3 separate regions of the Homo sapiens genome follow, and all the other regions are linked to region 1. The links come from fine-mapping of genetic effects on gene expression. A gene starts in region 1. Each other region holds a variant in brackets. All regions are shown on one strand. Distances are from middle to middle.

Region 1 (2,752 bases):
GGACCTTGGACTCCCCGGCCCCAACAGACACAAGACCTCCCACCCTTGTGCTCAGCATGGACAAGCCCCTGGGCCTTGGGGTGGGCCAACTGCCATTTCCCGCCCAGCAGGCCTGACTCTGGCCATCACCAGGAGAGGGACCCTTTCAGCCCATGCCTCTGGGACAGAGAGGAGGACAGCCGCCCCTCGGCTCCCCCCATCGTCCCTCACCGACTCCAGCCACCCCTGGAGGCCCCGGCCAGAGCTAAGGGCTTCCCTTCCACTCTGCGGCTCCTGTCTCTTGACTGGCCCAACACCCAGGGAGGCTCCTGACCAACCCACTTTTCGTATAGGGAAACTGAGGCGTGGGTTAGGAAGTGGGAGGCTACCAAAGGCTGCGCCTGGTTTTCCCACGAGCTGGGGGCCAGGGGTGGAGGTAGGGCGAACCCAGGGAGCCCAGCCTGGCTCTGGAGAGGGTCCCCCACTTCCCTGCACGGTCTCGGGCTGTTAGTCATTGCCCAAGGGCGGGTGTGGGTCGGGGAGTGTTCAGGGTGTTGCGAACAGGGGAAAGCGCCACGGCCCGAGCGCAAGTGCTCCCCACTCCCTCGGGGAGGCCACCCATACAGGGAGGGCTGCAGCAGCCCCACCAAATATAGCCCGCGCCCCCCGCCACCGCGGACCGAGCTATTTATACCCGGACCGGGCTTGGCCGCCGGCGCAGCCATCTCCTGGCCCGAGCCCAGCCCCTGAGGGCAGCCCGACGGGTGGGCGCCGGGCCGGACCGGGGGAGACGAGACTGGGCAGCCAGGTATGCGAGGGCGCGGAGGGGCGCGGCTGGCTCTCGGGAGCCCTCGGTGGGGCCCGCTCGGGGTCGAGAAGGCTAGTCCATGCCCCGGGCGCCCCCGGACCTGATGGACAAAGTGGGCGGGGTGGGGGTGAGAGCGCGGACCCCGAGGTCGCCCCCTTGCCCGGCACGGGGGAGCTCCTGGGCCCCGGCCCGCGCGCGAGCATCGCGGCCGCGCCTACCTGCCGCCGCTGGGCCGCCTCAGCCCGCCTCTCGCCGCCTCTCGCCGCCTCTGCCCGCCTCTGCCGGTCCGCTCCGCGCCGGGGGCGACTTTAAGTGCTCGGGTCGCTGGCGCGGCACGTCCCCCGCGCACGTCACCGCCTGGCGCCGCCCCTGCGCGCCCCGCCCGGACCCCGCGCCGCCTCCGGACGGGCTCCCGGGCCGCAGCTCCCCGACGGCGCGTCCCGCAACCCCGCCGGGCCCAGGGACCCCCCCAACCGGAACCGGCCCCGTCGGCGCCCCCGGCCCGGAGCTGGCCCGCCCCCTCTGCTCCTCGGGACTGGGTCTTCCCGGCCTCGCCTCCCCCGGAGTCCAGGCTCGCTTCGCCCCTCCGCCCCGCCGTCCCTCCGTTTCCCCGCCTCGGAGCGCAGCGCGGCAGGTCCCAACGTCCTCCAGGGCAGCGACCCCTCGCCCCCCAACGCCGGGGCCCCTTTGGTGGGGAGGTGCGCGCGGGTCCCGTGGGGTTCCGGCCGCCTGGCTCAGCTCCGGGGCCCACATCCTCCCTCTCTGAGGCCACGTCCGACCTGTCCCCCTTCAGACCTCCGCTTCCTCTCCGGTCCCGGTGCGGACGGCGGCTCTTCCTGGCTAGGGGAGCGGCCCGCGGCCTGCGCTGCCTGGATGTGGGGCACGGCCTCGCCCTCCCTGAACTTCCGTTTCCCCAGGTGGCTCCGCGCCCTGCGGGGCCCTACAAAGCCACCGACTCCAGCCCTGCGCCCCTGCCCCGCCCCTCTCGCGGCCCAGAACCCGACGCGGAGGCCGGGGCGGCTCCCACCTTCGGGGAGGCGAGGGCTGCCCACCCGCTGGACCTCGTGAGGTGCTTCTCCCAGCCTGTTTTCTCTCATTTGCAACATGGAAATAACGGGCCGCTTTGGGTGCTGAGGTTTGAGGTGGCTCCAGGGAGTAAGGCCTTTGTTGGCCTGGACCAAGGAGTCTAGTTGTCAGGGCCACCCTGCCAGGGCCACAGGAATGCTTTAACTGGCCCCTCCCGGACCCGGGGGCTTCGGGGACCGAGGCACTGGTAAGCCCGTGCCTTCACACACAAAGGAGGCAGGGGGTATCAATGGAGGACCCCTCCAGAGGGCAAGGGGAGGCCACCCCTGACAGTGAGGCCGTGTGGGCCTTGGCTCTCCATCTGCAGCCCAGCCTTGCGGGACATCAGGTCCAGTAAGGCCGCCTGTTCTTTCTATGTAATGTTACAAGCCCACCCTCCCGCTGGCATTCACAGAGGCTGGGTCTGGCCCTCACCCCTACCTGGGGCCCAACCACCCCCATCCCCAAACATCAAGATGAGGGCACGTGCCTGTGAGCAGAACACAGGCCTGTGGCAAGTGGTGAGGGGGCCTCCAACTTCACAGATGAAGACTCTACTTAGTTGGCCCGTGCTGCTCCCGCCCAGGGCAGGTGGTGCTCCCGCCCAGGGCAGGTGGTGCTCCCGCCCAGGGCAGGTGGTGCTCCCGCCCAGGGCAGGTGGTGCTCCCGCCCAGGGCAGGTGGTGCTCCCATCTTCCTGCACCAGGCGATTCATCAGTTTCTGAGGAGGGAGAGCAGCAGAGGGGTGCGAGGCACCGTGGACAGCTGCGGGAATGGGTCCCCTATGGGGTATTGCCTGCCGGGGAGGCGAGGGTACCGTGCTCCCCATCCCAGATTGTTGAGTCACCAGGCCTGCCAGCTGGGCTTGGGGCCCCCACTGAAGCCACCGAGACACCTTCCA
Region 2 (2,752 bases), 53 kb after region 1:
ATGAAGAATGTTCCTAGCTCGTCCTTCATTCATGTAGTTTTTACTTATTTATTTTGAGACACGGTCTCGGTCTCGCTTTGTTGCCCAGGCTGAAGTGCAATGGTGCAATCTCAGCTCACTGCAATCTCCTCCTACCCCTAGGCTGAAGCAATCCTCCCGTCTCAGCTGCTCCAGTAGCTGGGACCACAGGTGCGCATCACCACGCCTGGCTAATTTTTGGAGTTGTTTTTTTTAGACAGAGTTTTGCTCGTGTCACCCAGGCTGGAGTGCAGTGGTGTGATCTCTGCTCACCGCACCCTCCGCCTCCCAGGTTCAAGTGATTCTCCTGCCTCAGCCTCCTGAGTAGCTGGGATTACAGGCATGTGCCACCATGCCTGGCTAATTTTTTGTATTTTTAGTAGAGACAGGGTTTCTGCATGTTAGGCTGATCTCGAACTCCTGACCCAGGTGATTCGCCTGCCTAAGCCTCCCAAAGCGCTCAGATTACAGGCATGAGCCACCACGCCCGGCTAATTTTGTATTTTTAGTAGAGATGGGGTTTCTCCATGTTGGTCAGGCTGGTCTTGAACTCCCGACCTCAGGTGATCTGCCCACCTCGGCCTCCCAAAGTGCTGGGATTACAGGCGTGAGCCACCATGCCCGGCCTGGTTGCTAATCTTAACTTTAGCCAAGGCAAATGCCAATTCAGTTACTTACCTAGGGATAGGTCTCAGGCTAAAGACTGCTCTCTACCATCCTAGAAGCAGGAAAAAAAAAAAAAACCCTCATCTTCCCTGTTGGAAGTGAGTGCAAACTCCATAAAGGAGTTACCTGCCTTCCATCATCATGAAGCAGGAGAAACTTGCCTTCCTTGTTGGAAGCAAGTAAAACTCCAAAAAAAGGGAGTTGTACCGTTGGGGTGATCAGACCCAACACCAGGTCATGGGGGCTACGAAGTCCAGCAGAGTCAAAGGAATGAGACAAGAGTACATAGGGTGGGTCCAGGGGGCCCACGCTGGTGTATGGAGGCTGCAAAGGCCCCCAGCTCTGGGAGCCCACACTGTTTATTGGTAATCAAGTAAAGAAGCAGGTAGTGAGGACGTGTGGCTGTGGGGGTAGACAGGTGAGGGCGTGAGGACGTAGGGGTAGAAAGGTAGCGGTGCATCAAGCGTAGCTGTGACGGTTTCGCATATGCTCCGCTACTTGAGGTAAGGGAGAACAGGTTCTTCTAATTCAAGATAAAATCAATTTATGATCTTGGGAGAGCAAGGAGCAAGGGGCCAGCAAGTCTGGACACAATTCCAGAGGCTAGAAGGGGTTTTATGCCCTGAGCCCTGGGTTCTTTCCAAGCCACGAGGGGTTTTATGCCCTGAGCCCTGGGTTCTCTCCAAGCCACCAGGGGTTTTATGCCCTGGGCCCTGGGTTCTCTCCAAGCCACGAGGGGTTTTATGCCCTGGGCTTAGACTGTAGTGCGGCAGGGCAGCCTTCCACCCATTGGCACAGAGCTTGGTGTTCCAAAGGTCATGAGGGGTTTTAGACTCTGGACCCAGGACATGTTCCAAGACTCTTTTACATTATGTCAGACAAGCAAGCCCCGCCTCAGCTCTTCTGCCAACATTGTACAGCAAAATAAACTTTAGATCTTG[A/G]CCAAATTTGGGGAGATCAGGGATTCTCTGGAGGGGATGCTCCCAGACCTCGGCAAATTGTCCTGTTGGTTTGAGCCATAAAGTTAGCTCATTCCAGTACCAAGTACCGATAGGAGTTTTGTCAAAGGTCAGAGGCATCTCCACTCAGAATCTCCCTGTGGTTACCAAAATGTGAACCCAGAAAATCTCAGACAGGTCTCAGTTAATTTAGAAGGTTTATTTTGCCAAGGTTGAGGATGCGCACCGGTGACACAGCCTCAGGAGGTCCTGACGACGTGTTCCGAGGTGGTCAGAGCACACCTCGGTTTTACACATTGTAGGGAGACAGGAGACATCAATCAACATATGTAAGATGAACAGTGGTTCCATCTGCAGAGGCGGGACAACTCCAAGTGGGGAGGAGGCTTCCGGGTCATAGGTAGGTAAGAGACAGATGGTTGCATTCTTTTGAATTTCTGATGAGCCTCTCCAAAGGAGGCAGTGAGATACGCATTCATCTCAGTGAGCAAAGGGTGACTTTGAATAGAATGGGAGGCAGGTTTGCCCTGAGCAGTTCCCAGCTTGACTTCTCCCTTTAGCTTAGTGATATTTTCCTTTCACACTGCCGAGCCCTCTGAGCCTTGCTTGCCGCTGTGGTGGGCCTGCTCAGCCAGTGAGGCCAGGCAGCCAGCACCCTCAGCGCGTCCTGGGACATAGCCTGGTAAGCCTCTGGGCACTCGGTATCCCGCTCTGTAACTGGCCAGGTGGAGCACGGCCTTCCAGGGTCTACCCCTCATGCGACTGTTTCTCCAGGAGAATTCTTTCTTCCTTTTGGTTCTACCATAAATATTTTCCCACGCCATTACAATTCTTCACGAACAGAATCTAAATGGCTGCATGTTTTATCAAGCGGCCACACCATAACGCACCTAGCGATTTTCTTACCAATGGTCCTTCATGTTGTTCGCCATTGTGATCACGGCACTGCGGTGGGCAGTTTCCTGTTGTTGTACCCAGGCGAGTTAGAGAAGACGCCACACTCTGAAACGAATTGAGTCCTTTATTTAAGCCGGCAGCCAAAGAGACGGCTAACGCTCAAAATTCTCTCGGCCCTGAGGAAGGGGCTTGATTAACTTGTATACCTTGGT
Region 3 (2,752 bases), 69 kb before region 1:
GCATCACGTGTGCCCACCTGCCTCCTCAGATGCAATTCTGACATCTTCAGACGCAATTCTGACATCTTCATGACCCCACATTCAACTCCCTGCAGGGCCCGAGGCCACCGTCCAGTGAGGGGCATGCCCTGGGTCCCGTCCTCTGGGACTTTACCAACATTCGGTCACTGTGGATGCCTGGAGCTCCAGGGCTTTTGCCAACAGAGTGGAGAGCTCCTCCTTCTGAACACGGTCTCCAGTCCCATCTCCCAGACCTCCGGCTTGTCACCCCAGGCCCTTCGGGAGTGAAAATCACGACCCTGCCCACTGGGCCCGTCTGCAAGGCTTAAGCCAGCGTTCTGCAGGTGGACAGTGGCTGTCCCATTTCCCGGAGCTCCCTGGGCCCCCTGCCGCCCCCCTGGAGCCCTGGTCTGGCTGTTGGCAGCCTCCCCTTCTCCTCTGCTGCCTTGGAAGGTGTGGGAGCCTCTGCGGGGTCCCGCCTCTCCCTCATGCCACACTCTCCCCTCTGTGCCCTTGCTCAGCCCCAAGTTCCCTGGCCACATCGCAGGTGGCAGGCGCTGACATTGCCTCTGCCAGCCCCAGAGCCCGGCCCCGGGCACCTCTACCACCTACAGGGTCCTCAACTGTAGCTCTGACCCTGGAGGACTGTGGAAGGCTGCTCTGGCTAGAGTGACCCGCCAGGTCCAGGGATATCCTGTGGGGACAGGGAGGAGCTTGGAGCTGGGCGAGGGGGCGCCGTCCTCAGGAAGGTTGCCCAGCCGCTCGCTGCAGCTCTGAGGTTTGGCAAAGGTTCCACTCTGCCGAGCTGGTGTTTGTGTGATCATTTCCTTGCAATGACGTGGGTTCCACTGCTCACAGTCCCCAGGGCATGTCATCCCTCCCAGCCCACAACTTCCGGGTAGACGGTGCCGGGGGTTTACTGAAGGAGACAATCGGGGTGTTGGATGGAAACCTGCCCCTCAGGGCAAGCATCTGGGGTGGGGACACAGCACACGCAGCCTCCAGCAAACACGAGGGGCCGGAAGGGGCTCAGGCCCAAGTGCGCCCTCACCAGACCCGCTCCCCACACGCACGCACACAAGCTTCCTGCACACACACGCTCCCGCACCACACGCCCGCCTCAGCCCTGCGTGACTGTCCCCCAGCCTCGCCCCTCCCGGCCGGCCGTTCCTGTTCCAGCGC[C/T]TCCTCCTCCTCCCCAGCCTCGCTGGCTCTTGCTCAGCCCTTCTGGCCTCCGTCCAGGAGGAACCTGGGGCCAGGCGCTTCCCGCACCCAGCACAGCAGCTCTCACCTCACTGTACCGGGAACCGGAGATGAGTCTCTGTTTTCTGTTTCGTCAGCTTATGAGTAATTTATAAATGTAAAAACAAGGACAATAAGAAAAACCTTTATTAACATGTTTAATATGAACATAAGCAAAGAAAACCTCCTTGTACCTGTGGCCAGTAAGTTTGCAAGCACAGACATCTTAAGCAAAGAAGAAAGCCCTTCTGCTCACGTGAGTTGTGGTCCAGGGGCTGGTCACAAAATAGCGCGTGATGACATCCTTCCTGCCACCGACTGCAGGAGAAATCCACCGTCCGCTCGCTCACCGATCACCCACAGGACATTGTGTTCCCCCACCGCTGGCGTCACCGGCCGCGGGCTCCTGGCTCCGTCTGACTCATCTTCTCCCACCAGGTTTCTTTTTGCCACTGTGGGCAGCAGTTGGAAGATCCTGAGCTCTCGGCTGTGTTCTCATTCCACCTCGAAGAGGATGCAGGACCCAGGGCAGCTTGCGGCAAAGCTGCAGGGTGGCACGGTGTTGGGCCATCCTTCCGGATGCCCAATCTTAGGATTGCAGTCACTGTGGCATAGCTGGGAGCCATGGATGGGTGATAATTCCATGGATAATTCCAGGATGATGGACTAGCAGACATCTCATGATAGGAAAGATAAGACCACTGGGATACATAAGTCATATGTTTTACAGGTTTATGAGAAGTTTATCTGCCTGACAAGATGGGTTGATTTGTGCATCTTAGGTCAGGATAGGATGCGTTTTACTCTATTACAAAAGCAAAAGTAACTTTGTGTTCTCTTTGCACTTTGGAAGACCCATAAGAATATTAAACTCATGAGCTGCCAATCCTTATAACATAACTGCTCCAAAAAGCCATTCTAAAACTAGCTTCATGGGGCGCTGGGGGAAGGCGGGAAGGGAAGGAAGGATGGGAGGAGGAAGAGGAGGCTGAGGGGGGTGGAGAGGAGGGAGGGAGGGGCAGCCAGCAGCTGGCAGGTGGTTGGGAGCTCAGGTTCCGGGGCTTCCAGGCATCATGCAAGCTAATGTTTACATCCCCAGGCAGAAATCAGAATATAGGCTCTTTTCATATGTAACATTTCATTTGGCCTATTTGACAGAACGTTAAATAAAATGTCCACTAAACCTCATCACTACTGAGTTGCTAATACTCTCCTTGCAACATGACTGAAACCAGCAGTGCAGGGAGCTGCCCAGAACCAGGAGACCAGAAAGCCATCCTTAGCAACGTCATCTGCAACGCAATTTAAGTGGTGCCTTTTAGACCAACTGCACTGTTGGTATTTTACCCAAGGTTTTGGGGCACAGAGGTATTGGAAGATTCCTTTTCTGGATCATAAGCCACTTCAAAAACCCTCCTGTAATAGTTCATTTCCAATGAAATGCCATTAGGGCAGCATTAGTCACTGCAATCAAGGTACGGAACTCGCCTAAGTGTCCGTCAACGAATGAATG

What was found. PIP is the estimated chance that this variant, and not a neighbour inherited with it, causes the effect. A credible set is the group of variants that fine-mapping cannot tell apart.
Region 2: its variant is the best candidate, but not a certain one, in a credible set for the expression of SLC16A3 in whole blood (INTERVAL, PIP 0.80).
Region 3: its variant is the best candidate, but not a certain one, in a credible set for the expression of SLC16A3 in whole blood (INTERVAL, PIP 0.87).

Annotation. Positions count from the first base shown.
Region 1 is chr17:82,227,360-82,230,111 of GRCh38, reverse strand. SLC16A3 (solute carrier family 16 member 3) reads right to left here and starts at 1,070. Exons shown (of 5, transcript NM_004207.4): 1 at 1,006-1,070. RefSeq lists silencers at 605-654, 665-824, 945-1,264, 1,425-1,564, 1,615-1,694 and 1 more.
Region 2 is chr17:82,174,857-82,177,608 of GRCh38, reverse strand. The region is part of intron 10 of CCDC57 (coiled-coil domain containing 57); the gene reads left to right. Among named protein-coding and RNA genes, the nearest start is that of CCDC57, 37 kb to the left of the region's middle. RefSeq lists an enhancer at 1,686-2,475. The variant A/G (reference allele first, on the strand shown) is at 1,626.
Region 3 is chr17:82,296,413-82,299,164 of GRCh38, reverse strand. No RefSeq gene overlaps it. Among named protein-coding and RNA genes, the nearest start is that of LINC01970, 5.0 kb to the right of the region's middle. RefSeq lists an enhancer at 597-1,228. The variant C/T (reference allele first, on the strand shown) is at 1,183.